Homo sapiens: one gene and its partners. The protein of the gene in region 3 purifies or fractionates together with the protein of the main gene of each other region. This does not show direct contact. Each region holds a gene or a part of one and is shown on either strand. Other genes may lie near its edges.

Region 1 (7,115 bases), on a different chromosome or scaffold from region 3:
CAAAGGTGGGAATAAGCACTTGATGGTGTATCACTTATTTGACAAGCAGAATTTTCGATACAAAAGGTCTTTTTCTTTTTAAAATTTTTGTAGAGATGAGGTCTTCCTGTGTTGCCCAGGCTGGTCTCGAACTCCTGGCCTCAAGTGGTCTTCCTGCCTCAGGCTCCTAAAGTGCTAGGATTATAGGTGTGAGCCACCTGCCTGGCTGAGAAGATCTTTTTCTAGGGTTACTCATGATTTTTAGCTTCATCTAAGCTTTAGAAGTCTGATTATTGTCTTATTTTCCATATCAAGGAGAAAGGCTCTGCTTTCACTGCTGGGGAATTTCATGGTGGTCAGTGAAGCAAACGGTGGTTGCTCTTTGGGATGGGTGGAAAGACTTCTGTGTCCTTGCTGCTATTTGAGGATCCTAAGAACTGGCAGGGTTATACACAGCTGGTTAAGGCCAAGGCCCAAATACAAAACACTGGCAGAGCCTTAAGTCCAGGAGTAATCCTGTTCTTAGGAGTATGGGCTTATAAATATCAGTTGAAATCCAATAAAAGATCCTAATAGACCATTTTCTAAAGACCCTGGCCTAGTGTATTGCCTGGATTAGACTGACCAGTCAAATACTAGAGAGAATTTCAAAAACAAGGCAGAAACCATATCCAAATCTCAAATCATGCCACATCCAAATCCTAGAATTCTCTATATAATGCAGGTTCCATACTTCAAGATAAATGCATTTTTACACAGATTATTACACAGATAAGCAAGTTAAACTGAGACTTCAGACTGAAGCAATGGACTTTAAGAGGAAATTTAGAAGAAGTTCTTAGAAATCATGGACCATAGAGTGTCAGACCTCACAGGGGCCTCAGCACTCTAGACCAATACGGTCCAGTGGAACTTTCTGTGAAATGGAAGTGTTCTATATCTGCTCTGTCTACTACAACAGCCACTAGCCACTTGCGGCTGTAGAGCTCTTAACTACCACATTACACAGTGCAGACCTAGACTCCTGGGCTCAAGTGATACCCCTGCCTCAGCCTCCTGAGTTGCTAGGACTAGAGGCATGTGCCACCACACCTGGCTAATTATTTTAACTTTTGTAAAGTTGAGGTTTTGCCATGTTGCCCAGGCTGGTCTCGAACCCCTGGGCTCAAGTGATCTTCCTGCCGCAGCCTCCCAAAGTGTTGGGATTACAGGTGTGAGCTACCATGCCTGGCCTTCTTCCTTTTATAGATGGGGAAATTGCAGCCCCAGAAGGGGGAAGAGAGAATAAGAGTAAATGTGTGGCCTCATTCACAAAACCCCAGAACAGGAAATTTTGGCCTGGTAGAGGAGAAGTAAATGGGTGAATTTAAATATGAAATGAAAGAGGTAAACTTAGGATAATTTTTTAAAGTCTTTGATATAAAGGGTAGAAAAAGAACAGATTATTTCACTTGGTTTGTACCAAGATACAACAAGTAAGGTCAAGATGAACATTATAACCAAGGAAACACTATGTCTTATAAACTCTAAAATTGGTCACCATGTTCATCAACCCACAGAGGGCAGGACAGAGTCTCGGTGAGCACATTATCCCGCCCTCTGCAGTAACATGCACACAGTTACCACTTGCTGAATACTAGTGAGTGATGGTGGGCTATGGGGGCTCTCAGTTCCATTGGCTGATCTGCCATCCTGCAGATGGCAGCAGGTCTGCCAGGACGGGAGCTCCTGTAGTCAGCATGTTCACTGTCCACGGTTGGACAGAGTCCTCCCACTCTGCTTGACAGAGTGCAAGCATCCTTAGGAAAGTTTCTGACCCTTGTGTTTCTAATACCACAGCTTCAGACACCTTTCTTCTTCTCAGAGGGGGAAAAGAAAGAGCTCCTCTTGGAGGGCTTGGCTACACAGCCGGTGCGAAGGTTTCTTGTTCTTGGCTGATCCAGCTTTGTGGAAAGTGAGGCTTTTGTACCTGAACGCTGCCACTGACCCTTAGTTCAGAAGATGGCAAGCCTTGAAAACAGCAGAGCAGGGGGTGGTCAGCCACGGGAGGGTGGTGGTCGGCCACGGTGTGTGGTTGGCCACAGGCAGTGGTGATCTAGCATGGGGCTTGGGGGTCAGCCACAGGGCGGGTGAGGCTGGTCGGCCATAGTGGGCTCTGCCTGAGACAGGGTGATGGGGTGGCCAGGGCGGCACTCAAGCCATCCCTTAGGAAGCAGCAAGATCTGGCTCTGGTTCTCTCCTGGCTCCTCTTGGATCTTGAGGCTGGTGCCTTTTTTTATTGTAACCAAATACCCAGACTTCAAGGAGATTGAGGCTGGTGTCTTTCCGTCAGCTTGTGCCCAAGGGGACATCATCTTCTCCTCTCTGAAAGCACTGTGGATGTGAGGGGTGACTCTCCTATCCAGCAAGGAATGTAGTGGTGGATTTTCTACCTTCATCTCTAATTCTCTCCACCTCATCCAAAGGTCAAACTTAGTCATATTCAAGATCTTGTGGGCATTGCCGATGAACACGGTTGCCACTTGTTTGTGAAGTGAAGCCCTGCTCACTGCTACAGCCGCCACACTCACTGCCTGCAAGGGGTGCCAGCAGCCGGGGAGAGTGAGAGATCCTCCAGATGATACGGGAGGAGAGACAAGGGGGCGCCGGAGTCCAGCCTGCCTCGTGGCTTCTCCCCACCCCTCTCTCCCCACCCCCAAACTCCTTGCTGGTATTGGTTTTCTCTAAAATTTTGGAGAGTTTTATTTATTTGCATCGAGGTGTTATTTCTTTTACATACGTAAAATAGATTGAGCAGGTCATTTTCCTACACTGTCGCAATCACCTCTACCAGCCACACTCTGAAAAGATTGCAAGCAAAAAAGTCTGGGGCTTTGGGCCTGTGACAGGGAAGGGTCAGTGGCTGGTATCTGTGCCGGTGGCACCTCTTTCCCTCCTCTGCTCCTCTCTGCCCTCAGGCTGATGTGCGGCTCTGTAGCTGGTGGGCCTTAGGCTGAGTCTGTGTGAGTGTCTTGCGTAGCTGAGCAACCAGCCTTGAAGGGTATGTCAGGAGGCACAGAGAATGTAGGAAGCTGCCCGTGCTCCAGGCACACTGCGTGAATGAAGCCACCAGAAACCCAGGGCAGCTGCCCCAACACTGGGCTGCCCTGATGGTCCTCACAACGGTGCTGTCGAGACCATGGGGGTAACTTGGGTTGTGCTAAGATTTGACAGACCTTCCGGGATTTCAGTTTATTCCTAGGATTTCTCCATTGATGTTCCTGTGCTTTTTTTTTTTTTTTCCTATTTAACTCTTTCCTACTCTCCAGACTCTTCTCTTGCATGTATTTGTTAAAGCACTGACTGCCCACCCTCTTCCAATAGATGTTTGCCTCTGGCCAGGCCTGAACCCACATGACCCCTGGGTTGAAGGGTGCCCATACTGCTGGGATTGAATGCTGGGAGCAGTGAGTCCACAGTGGTTCCTAGGAACTTATGCCAGATGTTGATCCAGCTCCCTTGTGATGAGGTACTTCTATTAAGTCAAAGGCAGTTGGACCTGCTGTGGAATTCAGCTACCCTTGGCTTAATAGGATCAAGTTCTGGAGCAAACACCTGAGTTAGGAGAGCCCCATCTTGGTGTAGACATTCCTTTGCCTCTTGTGTTTGTTGGAGGTATTCAGCTTGTCTAATAGCACTGTTTGCATATCTCTTGCTTTTGGGATATGCTTCTTCCATCCCTTGGCTCAGAAGACAGTTTTCTAATCTAGATCCCATGAGCCCTCGAGGGCTCAGGTTTAATCTGGGAGCCCACCTTCATGGCATCAGAGCTCTGAGACCAGGGTCTGTGAGGAGTCACTTAGTCCACTTTTCTTCACATCATGAGAATGTTTCTGTACCCCTGTATGCCCCCAGAGAATATGTGATGAAGGAGTTGAGGGTGGGAGGTTATCTTGAAAGACATAAAAGCAAGTTGTATCCTTGTAAGAGGAGAGGTGATTATAGGTCCTCTTGTCCTGTTCTAGATTTTAGTGTGATTCAAAGTCCATCCTACCTAAGATACTTATAGCTCAGCTCTCCAGCTTTCATGACCATGGTTTCCCCCAAACAGTACAGAAGTACACGAAATAAAAAAGTGCAGCTCTACTTCACCCCCACCTCCCTCTCCGTAAAGTACACACGTGTGTATATATATATACACACACAAACACACACCTATATCTATATTTTTAAAACATAAATGAGAGTTTGCTATACATGTTCTACCCCTTACTTTTTTTCAATCAGTGTATGATGGAGATCTTTCCGTCTCAGGAGATGGACATTTATGTCACTGCACAGTGTTTTGTGATTCTAAGCAGTGATTGACCATTCAACTGGCCGCGCGTGCTGTGTGCAGCTGCCTTACCTGACATCTGCCTCAGTACTCTATGAAGTTCATTTTCTTGTTCTTGTCTCATTGGAACAAGAAACATGTGTTCCCCTGTCTATAAATCATGTGTGAAGTCTTTGAAACTCTACTAAATTGTCCTCCTTAATCTGGGCCTCTGGAGAAGCACCGAGTGAGGCTGTGGGCAGTGGGCAGCTGGCAGTGATTTCCATATGCACAGAACTCATGGATGCCCCGGTGTCCTGTGTGTACAAGAACCATGGAAAGCCCGGGGTCTCTCCCTACTTTCTTTCCAACTCATCACTCCCATAACCTAGTGCTGTTATGGGTCAAACTTGGTAGCAGGCAGCACAGACGAGGGCTCACCAGACTTCTCTGGAGAACACTCTGGTCCTTAAGCATGATGGTAATCTTGAATTTTGGTAGTGGTTAAAGCAAGAATGGCCTTAGCTAGCTGGTCAGATTAGGACACTCTCTACCTTCTTGTCATCCATGAATCTGCCTTAGTGGTTACACACTGTCTTCTATCAGCAGAGTTCCAAGCACTTACAACAGCTATTTGGGGCACCAGAGAAAGAACTGAGGCCCACTGAATTGCACTGGGTATATTCCCCTTAGGTGGTCCTAAAGGAAATGAGTAAAGCAAGATTTGCCACAGAAGTTCTCTGAACGTGCAGAATGTAGACCTGGAGGACTATGTGCTAGTGTGAGCTTCCTGAGAACCTTTAAGAGGCAAATTCAAGCCGGCGTGGTGGCTCACACCTGTAATCCCAGCACTTTGGGAGGCCGAGGTGGGTGGATCCCTTGAGGCCAGGAGTTCGAGACCAGCCTGGCCAACATGGTGAAACCCTATCTCTACTGAAAATACAAGTTAGCCGGGCATGGTCACGAGCGCCTATAATCCCAGGTTCTGGGGAGACTGAGGCACGAGAATCCCTTGAACCCAAGAGGTTCAAGATTGCAGTGAGCCGAGATCACACTACTGTACTCTGGCCTGGGCGACAGAGCAAGACTCCTTCTCAAGAATAAATAAATAAATACATCAATAAATACATAAATACATAAAATGCAAATTCAGCTCAGGTTCAGGAGTTTGTCAGAGGGAGCTTGTCACAGGGCTGTAGGCAATATACATGGATTATTACATTAGAATCAGCAGTACGAATATCATGTGATGCAGAGTGTGGCAAGCCATTGAGGCAGCCAGGGTCATTCGGGCTTGGATTGAGGACATACCTTTTTAGCTAGCATCTTTTAGCAGGTTCACTTGTGACAATGAGAGGCTGACACATCTTTGACCTCTAGTCAGCGGAGATGCTCTTACTGTGGGGAGAGAGGCCCCAGCATAGTCAGGAGCAGTTCTGCACTTTACCAGTTCTATGCATACCCCACTGTATACACTGATGAGACATGTTCCCTGACCAAGACATCTTTGTGAAAGCAAAACTCAACAGGATGGAAGGCCAGAGGAAGGCCGGGCTCAGCAGGCCCCGCAGAGCTCATCAACACATGAGGCTATAGAGGCGCCTGGGCCAAGGGACTCTTTCTCCCCAATCTCTGTCCAAGAGAAAACCTTGGACATGGCACAAATTAAAGTTATTTGTAAACTGATTACTGTCAAGTTTTCCTCTCTGCCTGGCCATTTCTTGTAAGGATGACTTTCCTAAAAAGTTGCTGCTAATGAGTTACTTTGGTTCCTTTTAGTTCATTCAAGTCTTGGAGCTTTTTCCTTGTTTCAGTGATGCTTCCTTCAACCAGATAGAAAACGCTGATATTATTATTTGGTTGCTGTATGCATTGTCTCCCCCCCCCCAACTTTTTCCCTCTTCCAGGATGATCCTAGTGCTCCCCACAAAATCCAGGAGGTTCTCAAGTCCTGCCTGAAAGAGGAGGAGTCATTTAACATCCAGAACTCCATGTCGCCCAAACTTGAGGGTGGCAAAGGTGACCAGGCTGACTTGGATGTGAACTGTCTTCAGAATAATTTAACCTAAAGCAGAGCAAGAAGAGAGGAAGCGGGGGTAGTGGGTGGGGGGTAGGGGAAGAAACATTATCTCCTCTTGTACAGAGTCTATTTCTTGTAACCATTTGTTAAACTCTTTTCTTTTTCTGATCTCATGGCATGCTTTTATGTATTTTGTACAGGAGGCAAAAAAATACTTAAAATAAGCAAAGAAACTGAACAGAATTGCATACATTGGGTTGTTTTTTCTGTGCTGTCTGTACATTGCTTCTGCTGCTGTGATTTCTAAACCTGTGCTGTTATTCAACTGACTTTTTTTTGTACTTTGACCCACGTTTTTTTGAAATACCAGTAAAAAACAAAGTTCTTGAAATAAAACTTTTTAAAAAGTTATTCATTTTCTTAGTCTTTGTGTCCACTCCTTTAAGTTTGAGTTGAGTAACCTTCATTGAAGATGTTTGTTTATTTATTTATTTATTTTGAGGTGGAATCTCGCTCTGTCACCCAGGCTGGAGTGCAAGGCTCACTGTAGCCTTGACCTCCCCAGCTCAAGTGATCCTCCCACCTCAGCCTTCTGAGTAGCTGGGACTACAGGTGCAAGCCACCACACCTGGCTAATCTATAAATTTTTTTTGGAAAGGCAGGGTCTCACTATGTTGCCCAGGCTGGTCTCAAACTCCTGGGCTCAAGCAATCTGTCTCCTCAGCCTCCCAAAGTGCTGGAATTACAAGTGTGAACCACTGCACCTGGCCAAAGATGTATATTTATTTATATTTATTTATTTGTTTATTTATTTTTTGAGAC
Region 2 (7,115 bases), on a different chromosome or scaffold from region 3:
GAAACTAGGACATCCACTTTCAAAAACACTTGTATCTTAAAAAGTTATACATATACTTACAATATGAAACAGAAATCTCACTCCTGAGAATCTAAGCAGTAGAAATGGAAACATTTTTCCACAAAAAGACTTGTACACAAATGTGCAGAGCAGCATTATTCATAAGAGCCAAAACAGTGGAAATAACTGAAATGCTCCTCAACTTGTGAGTGAACACCCAAAATGTGCGATATCCATGCAATGGGATATTATTTGTCAACAAAAAGGAATGAAATACTGTTACATGTTACAATGTGAATGAATCTCAAAAACAATAAGCTAAGTGACTGAAGGCAGACCCAAAAGGCCACATTTGTATAACTATTTATATGCAGCATCAAGAAAAAGCCACTCTATTTAGACAGAAAATATATTACAGGTTTCCTGGGGCTGTGGATAAGAACAAAGATCAACTGAAACTGAACAAAGAGCTAATTTTGGAATGATGGAAATTTTCTAAAATATTATGGTGATGATTGTACAACTCTTTAAATTTATTAAAACATGCTGAATTGTACACTTGAAATGGATGTTTCCTATGGTATATAAAATATAACTCAAATTATCCTGTAATGACCTCTTACTGCACCCAGAATTAAATCTAAACCTACAACTCCCACTAAACATAACTTCTAAGCATGCTCATGTTTTCCCAGAAAAATAAATGACTTGTCAAAAGGCTTACGTAGAGGGAATGGATTTTTTTAAAGTTTGCTGATTAAGGCAGCCAGGAGAAATGAGAAGGAGCTTAATGGCTTAATAATAAATAAATAAATAAATAATTTGTTGCATTTGAGGTAGATTGCCTTTACTATGGTCTTCAGGATTTGCATCTAATTCCCAGCCTTCCATTCTCTGTCCAGCAATTGAGAAGTTTGAGCTAAGATTAAATCTAAATAAAAGGCCCTTCCTCTCTCTAATCTACAAAGAGTGTCATGCCAGTCACTGCTTAGATGTACTCACAATACCAAATTCCCTCTTTACAAACTTCCATCAATCAAGCAGACTTAAAAATTGTATTAAGCAAGCACCATTTATCCAGAAGTGCGCTGGTTCTTGTGGATGAATGATAAGATCCCTTCCTTCAAATAAAATAACTGATTGAGATCCAATATAGAAAATGGAACAAATCATAACTGTTATGGTTAAAGTGGAAGTGGGACCCCCAGAGTCATTAATCTGTCCTCAAATTCAACCACCACCTGACTCTATCACAGTGGCCCTTTAAAACCCTCCTTAGAATTCCCTGGGCTCGTCAGAACATTATTTCAAAGTCACCCATGAAATCTATCCTCTTTATTTCAGAGGTGAATAAATAAAGGTCCAGGATGGGAAAGGGACTAGCACAAGGCACATAGTCATGGTCCTCTGGGTCCTCTAAAAAGTACAGATTTATGCATGAAGCAACTTGAAATCAGAGTAATTATATACACGAGGGCTTTCTAGACAGTGGCACTATGCCATATTTCTCTCTTTAACCTCCACAACACCTATCATTCTGCTTTGGCCATAAGCGGGGCTCAATCATTACATTTGGAATGAGAAACTACTGAATGGTAGGTAGTAAATCCAGGGGAGTGATTATAGCATCAGTAGCCTCAGAGAAGAAAAGACATTACCATGGGTGGCAAGGATTTCATTCATTTGGTTCATATTTATTAAGAATCTATCTAAGTGACAGGAACTGAAAGCAACCGTCTGTTAAGAAAGGCTTTATTTAATAACAATAGCTATTATATTTGTGGTGCCTACTATGTTCCAGCAACTGTATTAGGCACTTTTTATGCTATCAAAATTTAATCTTCATAAGAACCATATCGGCAGGTATGTTTCACTTTATTTTCACACATGAAGAATTTGAGGCTGAGAGAAGTAAAGTGACTTGCCCAAGAAGACAAATTCAGGAAGTGGAAAATCCAGCGTTGTAAATCTGATCACCTTTCCATCACAACAAGGAACTTTCATCATATGATGGATTTAAAGCCATAAAAACCAGGCCAGTAGGGTGAATTCTTGTCCTGGCTCAGTCATCAATTTTCAGGGTGAAATAGTGCACTTCATGGAATCTCTTGGCACCTTGGAAATTCTACCTGGAAAGTAGGACTCAGTGTAGCCTTGCATGGAATTGTTGGATGCTTCAATGAGATGAAATCTGTGGAATGTTTGGCCCTACAAGTGAGGAAGCCATCCAGATCATTAAAGATGCAATTTTATATATAAAATTTCCTAATGAGATTTTTCCAAGAGGCTAAAGCACAGCTAGTATGACTCGTGAACCACAGGGAAACCACAGGGTTTTCAGGGTACTTTAGGGTTTCTACAGTCACCAGGATGACAGTCTTAGGTAACTTTTGGACCAGTATTCCTGAGCTCCTGTCCTAGTCTGTTTGTGCTTCTATAACACAATACCACAGACTGGGTAATTTGTAAAGAACAAAAATTTATTTCTCCCAGGTCCGAAGGCTAGGAAGTTTAAGATCAATGTGCCAACAGATTTGGTGTCTGGTGAGGGGCTTGGTCTCTCCTTCCAAGATGGCACCTTGTTGCTGCATTTTCAAGAGGGAGTGAATGTTGTGTCTTCATATGGTGGAATCACAGAAGTACAAAAAAGGGTCTAAACTCATTCCAAGTCATTTTCTAAGGCACTAATCCATTCATAATGGCAGAGGCTTCATGACTTAATTACTTCCCGAAAGGTCTCTCCTCTTAATACCATCAAAATGGTAGGATTATGTTTCAACACATGAAATTTGGGGTACATTCAAATCATAGCAGACTGCTAGGCCACAGGTTCTCCAGACAGTCTCCTGAGCCAAGACTATAAAACATTCAGCTGGATACCTTCTTTTCAATGATTTCTTTCTGGCAAATATGGAAGAGGACAGGTGCAAAGAAGGAGAAGTTCTAGGGCCATGGATCATCCATTGCTGGGACAAACTTGGCAGGCTCATCTGTCACCCAGTTTCAGAGGTGACTCAGCCCCAATGCACACTCAAAAAGCAGGGTAGGACAGCTGGGACCTGTAGGCCTTGAAGATGGGAAAATTAGGTGAAAAGATACTGTTTACTGGAGATTGATGGAAAAGTGCTGGTATTTGTTAATAAGTTGAGGGGATGATGAGAAGTGGACAATTCCAGATTATATTGTATAGGTATAACTGGCCAGGTCTTACTAATGCAGTTGTTCTCCACATGTAGTCCCTGCACCACCAGCAGCAGCATTGCCTGGGAACTTGTTAGAAATGTAAATTCTCAGGCCCCACTCCATATCTACTGAATCAGAGACCCTGGAAATGGGGCTCAGCAATCAATGATTTAAAAGCCCTTTAGGTGTAACCTCCTGCATGGTCAAGTATAATAACCACTATGCTAATGGTGTGGATGGAGAGGGTCACATAAAAAGAGGAATAAAGAATGGCTTCCAGATTTCAGCATAGTGAGGCATTTACTGAGATGGGGAAGACTGGGAAATAAAAATGTTTAGGGGTGGGGCTGGAGTTGAGGGCCTGTTTGAGATGCCAGTGATACATGCAAGGGTGTAAGTTAAATGGGCAGTTAGATATGTGAGTCTGGAACTCAAGGGAGAGATCAGAGCTATTGACTTTGATTAGAAGATCCTTCTGATGGGTCTTATTTATCCTAAGTGATGGGCCACCAAAGGATAGCCCAGCCCTGATTATGGCCCAGATTTATGCTCAGTAAATGTCACTGAATGAACACAAAGGAGCTAGTTTTTCCTGCTTACTCCAGTCTGGTGAGAATATTGCCTAAGTACTAAGCATTCTTCCATGTAATATTTATTTGCTCAACTGGAAACAAAGCTACTGTCAGCAAAGTAGATTTCTTATAACAGTTCATTCTGATAACTTTCTTACATCTCAATACCAAATGCCAACACCTTTTCAGTCTCTCCTGTGGCCAGCATTGTTTGGCTTAATTTGCCCATCCACAAGTCCCAGAGGTTCCAGTTGTCCTGTGCCTTGGTCTTGAGTAAGCACTGGTTCTGAGTCAATCCCCAAGCCAGGTAACAGAGGAGCTTACCAAGACTGCCACACCAATGGCGGAAGGAAAGGAAGAAGGGAGGAAGAGAGGAAGAGAGGAAGGGAGGGAGGGAGGGAGGGGGGAAGGAAGGAAGGAAGGGAGGAAGGAAGGGAGGATATCAATTCAAAATTCCATCATTAGATGGGATAACTTGAGTGCTATAATAAATCTCCCTGTGGAGTCTGTGGTTGGGGTATTGTAATTCATTTTGACTGGGGAACTCGAGAAGGTTTTGGAGAAGACGAGGCATTTCATATGGGTCTTCCTTGAAAAATGAGTAGGATTTAGATGCTTGGAATGGGAGAGTGGCATTCTAGAACGAGGAATCTGCAGAGGCAAAGGTCTGGTGGAACGGAAATATATAAAACAGTAAGAACTTCTATATGGCTAAAGGATAGGATTAATAAAAAGCAGTAGCAGATAAGGTCAGAATAGTGGGTATGGGACAGATTTCCGGGGAGGCAGCATGAATGCCATGGAAACACCGATAGGTAAATGTGTGTTCAACAGAGACACAGTAAGAAATGACGTAAGTGAGAAATGAATTTCACCTCATGACACAATACACACATACACATATTTAAAACTAAACAAAACCTTCTCCAAAGTATACCTACTACTTCATATGCAATGTATGTTGATAATTTCCTTTTTATTTTAAAAAAGGTTTTTTAAAAATGCTACTAGTGACCAACTAAATTCTTTTTATGAGCTAATAATGGGACGCAGCCTGTATTTTTCAAAAAGATTGTCATACACAATGAAAAGTTAGTGAAGATGTTTGAGAAATAAAATAACAACCATGCTTTAGGAAGGTAGTTCTCAAGGCAATGTGGATGCCATTGCAGACAGAGGAGAGACTGTAGACAGGGAAGTAATTCTTCAGATGGAAATGGATACTGCATTACAAATATCCATGCCAATTCATAATGAAGGCCTGAAATGGAGCAGTGAACTGGGAGGTGGAGAGTGGGGCAGGTATTGGGTAAGATATTCAGGATAGAAATAGAATTAACTAAGTGATTGCAGGTGAGTCATTAAAGAGAAAGGGGAGTCAACATTGACTTTCAGATTGCCATCTGAGGTAACTGTGCAGAGAATGGTGGTATTAAACCAAAGGTTTAAGGGGAGGAGCTTGATTGCTGTAGGAAGAGACGTAGATATAAAGCTGAGATTTATCTGTGAAACTTCCAGGCGGACAAGCCCAGTAGGCTGTCATATGTATGGGCTAAAGCATGAATGTGGGTGGGGTATAGAGGTTGGAGATTTGGAGGATAATATTTGAAGCCATGGAAGTACAGGAATTTACTCAAAAGAGTGTGTAGAAAGAAAAAAAGAAAAGAAGGACCCAGTCGAGAAACATTCATTTAAGAGTACCTACTTAACTCAACATCTCCTTCCAAAATGGTTTTTCTTTTTTTCAAGTGAGGAAAGCTCTTTGTGTATGGATATGTGTACATCGGGGTGTGAGTGTACGCAATACACATGAATGGATGGCATGTGCATTTTAAGGAAATATTGTTTTGTACTTGGGGAGCTGGTGTAGGGCTCTGGTCCATTTAATGGTGCCTGTACTCACTGTCTCTGTTTTATTACTGCTATCCTCCCTTTCCCTCTTTTCTATCTCCCTTCTTTTGTTCCATTCTTGTCTCTCTTCTTCCACTTATCTACATGCTCCTTCATCACCATTTAAAAGTCCAAGGAAAACATGGGCAAAATAGATTAGTGTAGGATTTGGAGGCTGAGGTTGGGAACATAATGTGGGAGTGTGATTGGGATTGGGAGGAAAGACAGGGGTAGGCGTGTGTTCAGAGTTAGAAGCAGAAAATGGTCTGTGGTGGGAGAATCTGCTTCTGATGTTTTTCCCACTGCAAATTCTGCCATTGGTGTGAGTGCTGAGTATGAATGCATATATTTCTGGGCTCGTGTCTTGATGTGTGTAAGGCTCTTAGCTTGACTTCAATAGGTCATTAGATGATGCTGCTGTCATCATTCCTGCTTCTGTCCAGCAAACATTATTTCTTTAACAGAAATATGCTGCTATGCTTATACTTCAGGAGATTTAGGATTATAGCAGTTGAAGAACTGTGAATAATGGTTAATCAGATAATCAGCATTTGTAAGGGCAGTTAATAACATTGAAATGTGCATGCCATGTGAATAGGAGGATATATTATTTTTTCTTTCCTAGCTGTGTAACCATGGGAAAGTTGCCTAATCTGTCTGATCCTCAATGTCCTTATCCGTAAAGTGGGGGTAATAATTCCTATCCCAGATTTCCTTTGGGAAGACTAAAGAGTAAATGAGCCAGGAGCTTTTAAATTAAAAGGTGCTTGACAAATGTTAGTTCCTTTCTTCAGTTTCTTTGACCCTTTGCTCCTTCCTTATTTCTATCTCTCATACATGTTTATCTGTCCATATGTGAACATCAAGTATATATTTATAGTACTTTCTCCATTTTAAATTCTTAAACCAAGTGGCTTAACCTTTGTATATTACTGTAAAATTGTCAAAAGCAGTTTAATTTAAGTCACTTTTGGAACACACACATTTGGAATTGTTATGTCTTCTTGGTAGATTGACTATTTTTCATTATGTAATATCCATCTCTAGGAATTTTCTTTGCTCTGAAGTCTGTTTTATTTGATATTAAGATGGCCATTCCTGCTTTATTTTGATTAATGTTTGCAAGGTATTTAGACTATTTGTTGTGAACATAATTATTGATACATGAAGGCTAAGTCTGCCTTTTTATTTTTTTTTCTGTTCATTCTCCGTAATTTTAGTTTCTCCATTTTCTTTGCCCTGCCTGCCTGTGGGTGACTGGAGCATTTTTTAAAAATTCATATTGATTTATTTATAATGTTTTGAGTACATTTCTTTGTATAGCATTTTCAGTGTTTTCTCTCAGTAATATATTATGTATACATAATTTATTTAATAGTCTTCTGACATTACCACTTTACATGCTTGAATGAAGTGTAGAAGCATGTCCTCCCCTTTACATCTCTTTACATTTACAATCCCCTTTACATT
Region 3 (6,580 bases):
GGAAGGTGCAGGTGCATAGTCTGGCTGTGCTAGTGCCAGGGCATGGGTGATGGGTCCCACCTGGAAAGAAGGCTAGACTTGGAGTTGGGAACCAGGTACCAAGTGCCTTACGGCCCCTGCAGGTATGTCCTGAGCCCAACCAGGATTGTTTGGAAGATTTTAAGCCGAGGGTGAGAGGTAGGATGGATTCAGATTTGGGGACCTGAGTGGGGAACCTGATCAGATTTGCTTTTTGGAAAGTGACTGTGACAGATACGTGAGCCATGGGCAAGTCTTCAACCTGAGCCTCAGTTTCCTCATTTCTCAAGCAGGAACAATAGATGTGCGTGAAGACTGGAAGCGATAATGTATGTGAAAAGTGGTATATGTCAACTATTATTACATGACTTTGAGTCACGAATGAGCTAACATGCTTACGTTCTCAAGAAGAGATCAGTTTCGTCATCTGCTTGGTATTGTTTCTTGATTTATACAGCTGTTTCCTCAAGCATTTTTCTTTAAATGGGAGCAGCTATTACTATTTTTTGTCTGTTTCAGCTTCAACTCTGTTACAAATTGGAAGGAACGAGTTGTTGAACATTGATCGTAGAAAAGGAAAAGAAAGTTTTTATTTTTTGCCTTGTTGTGCATTCATTCTTTCAAAAGCTGTTTAGAGGAAAAAACATTTTCTATCTTCTCATAGTAGTAAGTAGCAACTCAGGTGCCTGAAGACCCCATCATATTTTACTAAAACTCTCCACTCCAAAAGAGCATCAGTTGTGTGTAGGTGAATAGAAAGCTGGTGTGTAGGCCGGGCACGGTGGCTCACACCTGTAATCCCAGCACTTTGGGAGGCCAAGGCGGGTGGATCACCTGAGGTCAGGAGTTTGAGACCAGCCTGGCCAAAATGGCGAAACCGTGTCTCTACTAAAAACACAAAAATTAGCCTGGCATGGTGGCACGCACCTGTAGTCCCTAAGCTACTGCAGAGGCTGAGGCGGGAGAGTCGCTTGAACCTGGGAGGCAGAGATTGCAGTGAGCCGAGATCGCGCCACCGCACTCCAGCCTGGGTGACAGAGCGAGACTCTGTCTTAAAAACAAAAACAAACAAAAAAGAAACCTGGTATGTAAGTAGCTAAATATAGAGACGTATAGGAGGCATCTTGTAATGTGTGATTATTCATTTGATTTTATTCAGTGTGCTATTAAGAAGGGCCCTTCCTTCTAAAGAAAATTAGAACATTTTCAAAGCTTGCGTCTGAATCCTGTCTCACTACTCAGTAATGGAGTGACCCAGGAAACCGCATCACCTCCCCAAGCCCCAGTCCCTGTGAAATGGGGAGTGTAGTAAGACCTGCTTCCTAGGGCTGTTGGGAGGATCAGGTGAGACAATCTGATTGAAGGACTTGGACCAGTGCCTGATAAATAATAAGCACTTGGTAAGTTATTATTAGGGCTGGGAGAGCAATAACTTCAGCTGCGAAAGCTAATACTAGTCTATCCTGATGACGGCATCAGATACTTATTTTCAAGTTTCTTCTGAAGACAAATTTTAATTGACACTTGAAAACCAGGAAGAGCATGAAAAAGAGGACTCAGTGTAGCCTCTAAAGGCTGTTGAGCCTGAAGAGGTGTTGGAATGCCGTGCCCGCCTTGTGGTGCAGGCTTCAGCAGTTTAGGCCCAGAGGACTGTGGGTCCCACCTGCCTGACAGCAGGGCACACAGGTGCTGAGCAGTTGGCCATTACTGGGCTGTGAAAACAGCATGAATGGGGAATGGAGACTGTGGGCAAAGCAGTACAGTCCACTTGTTCGCAGGTGGGAAAGTCAAACTCTGTCTTTATTCTTTTTTTTTTTTCTTTTTGAGATGAGTCTCGCTCTGTCGCCCAGGCTGGAGTGCAGTGGCGCGATCTCGGCTCACTGCAAGCTCCGCTTCCTGGGTTCACGCCATTCTCCTGCCTCAGCCTCCCGAGTAGCTGGGACTACAGGCGCCCGCCACCGCGCCCGGCTAATTTTTTTTTTGTATTTTTAGTAGAGACGGGGTTTCACCGTGTTAGCCAGGATGGTCTCGATCTCCTGACCTTGTGATCCGTCCGCCTCGGCCTCCCAAAGTGCTGGGATTACAGGCGTGAGCCACCGCGCCCGGCTGTCTTTATTCTTTTACCATTTTATTTGGGATAAGTAGCAGCACTGCCTGGGAAGACCCTTGGGAGGGAGAAGGAATCTGTTGGATGGAAATCTTACCTTTGAGCATCAGTTATATTTAATGCCTAGTTTCAGCCCTTTTCATATTAGACTTTCCAACAGCAAGTCAAGGAAAGTCAAGGAGCGAAAGGAAGATGGGCTCAGAGGAAAGGTTTTTTTTTTTTTTTTTTTTTTGAGATGGAGTCTTGCTCTGTCACCGAGGCTGGAGTGCAGTGGTGCGATCTTGGCTCACTGCAATCTCTGCCTCCTGGGCTCAAGCGATTCTCCTGCCTCAGCCTCCTGAGTAGCTGGGATTACAGGCATGTGCCACTACACCCGGCTAATTTTCTTATTTTTAGTAGAGATGGGGTTTTGCCACGTTGGCCAGGCTGGTCTCGAACTCCTGACCTCAAGTCATCTGCCTGCCTCGGCCTCCCAAAGTGCTGGGATTACAGGCATGAGCCACTGCGCCCGGCTGGAAAGGTTCTTTTAAGAGTTCCACAAAGTGGCCAAAAGTTTATTCTTGCATTTTATCATGCGTATGCCTTGGAGTTATGTTTTTGGAATATGACTTAAGAAAACAAACTTTCCAGGTAACACGTAGCCGGTTCCCATCTTTCTAGCATCTCTGCCTTTGGCTGATGTGACGCCATACGTTCCTGACAGTTAATGTTGGCTCTGTAGGGATCTGATGCCAAGTACAGTCATAGCTCAGCCATGACACAGGGCCTTCCAGATAGGCCAGATTCAGTGCCCTTCCCAACAGATGCCTCTCCATCCCCCACACCTCCCGACTCCACCAAAATGAAGTGGAAGCACGTCTTGAGTTGCCCATTTCTTCTGTGTCTGGTCAGGCACACGTCAAGAATGTTGGCTGGTGATGGGCTCAAGGCAGGCACAGCCCGCTTCACTGTGCATGTGTGCAGGCTTGATTGACACTGGCAAAATCTGCAAGGATATTTCTAGACATTCCAAGTGATTGGTTCCTCTGAGGAAATGAAACATTAAAAAAAAAAAAAAAAAAAAATATATATATATATATATATATACACATGTATATTTAATTATTTTTTTAAAGCCACAATTGAAAAAATTCTTTGCCACTGGGTAGAATTAAATCTGACAGGAAACCCTAGGAGTTTTTATTAGTACCATTATTGTTTTCTTTGGCTCCATGTATTATGTCGGTAAAATGACAAAAAAAAAAAAAGGAAAAAAATTGTAAAAGACAAATATTTTGTACAAAAATACAAAGTTTTAAAAGCTCTTTAAGTATATTTCATATTATTACTAATAGTTGGCCTATATATCTGTATGTCTGCATATTTTTCCTACACTTGGGATTTTAGAAATGTATGGCACTGTTTACACAGTATATGCTTAAGTTCTTCCCATAACTCAACGACCAATGATAACCTTTTTCTGATTGGAGTGTTCCATACTTTGGAAGACATAATTTGTATAATCGCACGGTTACTGACGGAGGAGAATCTATGTGATTCAGTCCATGTGCACAATGAAAATCAGCATATCACCCTGGGGAACATTTTAGTTCCCAAGTCTTTGGGTAATGACGGATGGTAAAAAACACTAGCTGTCAATTTTTTTTCAGTAATTGGTTTTCAGTGCTTTTTTTTTTTCAATCTGATGAGAAGGTGATGCAATTAGAAAGGAGTGTCCTTTGCCTTTGAGAGCTGAAAATTTGCTCATGTGATCCCATCACAGTCCGTTATAATGCAGATGACAGTACTAAAAGAGAGAAATAAGAATGGGCATTAGTTTTTCTTAAATAATAAAGTTAATGTGCAATTCAAAAAAAGGGAACGTGTATTTTTATAGGACAGTGTCTAAAATACATCATTCAACAATGCTTATATTTTCAAAGAAATGTCTAGAAGATCTTATTTGGATGAAAAGATAAGTTTCATTTTGAAAAGCCAAGTTTCATTTTGAAAAGCCTATTCTGGGAAAGCCTGGTCCCTACTCAAATCCCAAATGGCCAAACAAAGCATACAAAAGACAAATCTGAGTTACTTGTCACCATCAATTATAATCCCTTGTTTAGATATCTGTGTTTTTCCCCCTCAACTGACCCAGCTGTGAGTTCCTATGTGTCTTAAGGTCCCTAGCACTTGGACCAATGCCTGACACATCAAAGGTGCTCAGTAACTGTCTGTTGAATGGCAATACGGATAATTTATGCCCCAGTTACTTCCAAAAATAGTTTGACCAAAATATATTTGAGGTTTTTGTTTTTATATGAACAGCTTTATTGAAATATAATTGACAAATTGTATAATTCACCCATTTAAAGCATATAATTCAGTGGTCTTTGGTATAGTCACAAAGTTATGCAATTTAGAACCAATCTAATCTAATTTTAGAACATTTCCATCACCCCAAAAAGAAACCCCATACCCATTAGCATTCATTCCCCATTTCCTCTGTCCCCTATCACAAACTTTTAATCTCATTCTGGTGAAGAAAACTAAGATGCCACATTCCAAAGAGGGTCGTGTGTTAAATGAAGCTTTAGATACATAGCCTTTGAAGTCAAGAAAATCTCCAAAAGCTGCTTTGGCTTATGAGCTGATAAGCAGCACAGACCATCTCCCTCTATTATGTATCACAGGATCTGGCCTATAGTAGATGCTCAATAGATACACGTGGAATTGAACGCTTGGCCACCTGGATTAGCTGTGTATGGATGTCTACGGAAAAGAACTAACATTGGTGCTATATCTCTTTTCTTTTTTGAGATGGAGTTTCGCTGTTGTTTCCCAGGCTGGAGTGCAATGGTGCGATCTCGGCTCCCCACAACCTCTGCCTCCTGGGTTCAAGCTATTCTCCTGCCTCAGCCTCCTGAGTAGCTGGGATTACAGGCATGCGCCACCATGCCCGGCTAATTTTGTATTTTTAGTAGAGATGGGGTTTCTCCGTGTTGGCCAGACTGGTCTCAAACTCCCAACATCAGGTGATCTGCCCGCCTCCACCTCCCAAAGTGCTGGGATTACAGGCGTGAGCCACCGTGCCTGGCTGGTGCTATATTTTAAAGAACAATTAACTCACAATATAAGATACTTATGTGGGTCAGTTAGTTTAGCATTCGTTGAGTACTTCCTACATGTGAGGCACATTTATTAACTTATTTAAATCTTCACAACCTCGTGAAGAAGATGCTATTACTATTTCCCTGAGGTTAATCACCTGCCCAGTTAATAAATGGCATAACCAGGGCTGAAACCTAATTGCAGTGCCTGCATTCAGGGCCCTTGTACTCACCACCCCTCACCCTTTCATAGGACATAAGCTGGCAGCTCCCTCTTAAATCCCATCTACTGCTCACCTGTCTCCCTGTCTTTTTCGCAAATGAAGTTATTGACGTCTTCACATTGGAAATCGTTCCACTGCCCAGCATAAATCAACCCAGCACAGTCTTCTCCTGGCCCATGGCCATGACCCCAGTTATCCGGCTGTCCAGCTTTCCAATTTCTTTTAGCAAAACAGAAATTGAATGTTATTTGCACAGTAATGCAGAGCTTTTCTTTACTCAAGAGCAGCAGAGAATATAAAAAAACAAAATTGAAGCATGTCATTTATCCTGGAATGAAAATGCAGTTTAAAAATCAGTACATGCTCTTATTCAGAGAAAGGAGCAGCTGTTTTGCAGAGTAATGCATAATGCGGCATCTCCCTGCGCGCTTGTGATCTTTGCTACCATGAACCAAACTCACTAGGCTGGTTCATCAGAATGCAGAGGGAGCGAATCTTGCTTTGGGACAGTTAGATGAATAACTTTCTAATGTGTACTGGAATGCTGACTTCTGGGCATGAGTGTATATATGTGTGTGAATATCTATTCATTATGAGGACATGATACACACACACACACACACACACGCACACATGATCTTGTGAGAACCCAGAGGGACCTTGTACATTTCAATATCTTGCCTCTAACAAGTCCAAGAGCCAGGAAGAGAAAGTGAAAGACTTTTGATATACATTTACAAGAACCTACAATTACAAATAACTGGTTATGATTGTCTGGGTGAGTTGTAGAAGGTTGATTGCTTTAGAAAGAAATAGTAACTTAATCTTACTGAAAATGACTCCTACATTTCACTCCCTTTTTTGGGAGAGAGATTCTTAAAAACAAGTTTTCTTTAGGATGAGTTCACATGGGGCTTCTTAACTTGGATGCTGCTGCTCAGAACAGCACCTTGCCATGGATAACAGTTCTTGATTACGTTTCCACGAATAAATCAGGTGTGCTTCCAGACTCACCCCTTGAAGGTTCAATCTTGTCTAAGAAGCAGATTCATGCACAGAAGCTTGTGGCTGCTGCCTGAGAGGACAAGCCTGCCTCATGTGGAGGGTCTGGAAGAACATCTGCAGCGGAGGGTGCTTCCTATAAA

Evidence for each region.
Region 1: the proteins of COLEC12 (region 3) and CSPG5 purify together in Homo sapiens (co-immunoprecipitation; 3 studies listed by BioGRID and IntAct, with this or other methods). This does not show direct contact.
Region 2: the proteins of COLEC12 (region 3) and ZC4H2 purify together in Homo sapiens (affinity purification with mass spectrometry; 2 studies listed by BioGRID and IntAct, with this or other methods). This does not show direct contact.

Annotation. Positions count from the first base shown.
Region 1 is NC_000003.12:47,561,827-47,568,941, reverse strand, and holds the end of CSPG5 (chondroitin sulfate proteoglycan 5 isoform 1 precursor), read left to right. Parts: intron 1-6,180; coding exon 6,181-6,342; 3' UTR 6,343-6,704; downstream 6,705-7,115. UniProt on the Homo sapiens protein: May function as a growth and differentiation factor involved in neuritogenesis. May induce ERBB3 activation.
Region 2 is NC_000023.11:64,966,360-64,973,474, forward strand, and holds part of ZC4H2 (zinc finger C4H2 domain-containing protein), read right to left. Parts: intron 1-7,115. UniProt on the Homo sapiens protein: Plays a role in interneurons differentiation. Involved in neuronal development and in neuromuscular junction formation.
Region 3 is NC_000018.10:316,154-322,733, forward strand, and holds the end of COLEC12 (collectin-12), read right to left. Parts: intron 5,655-6,580; coding exon 5,509-5,654; intron 3,912-5,508; coding exon 3,892-3,911; 3' UTR 584-3,891; downstream 1-583. UniProt on the Homo sapiens protein: Scavenger receptor that displays several functions associated with host defense. Promotes binding and phagocytosis of Gram-positive, Gram-negative bacteria and yeast.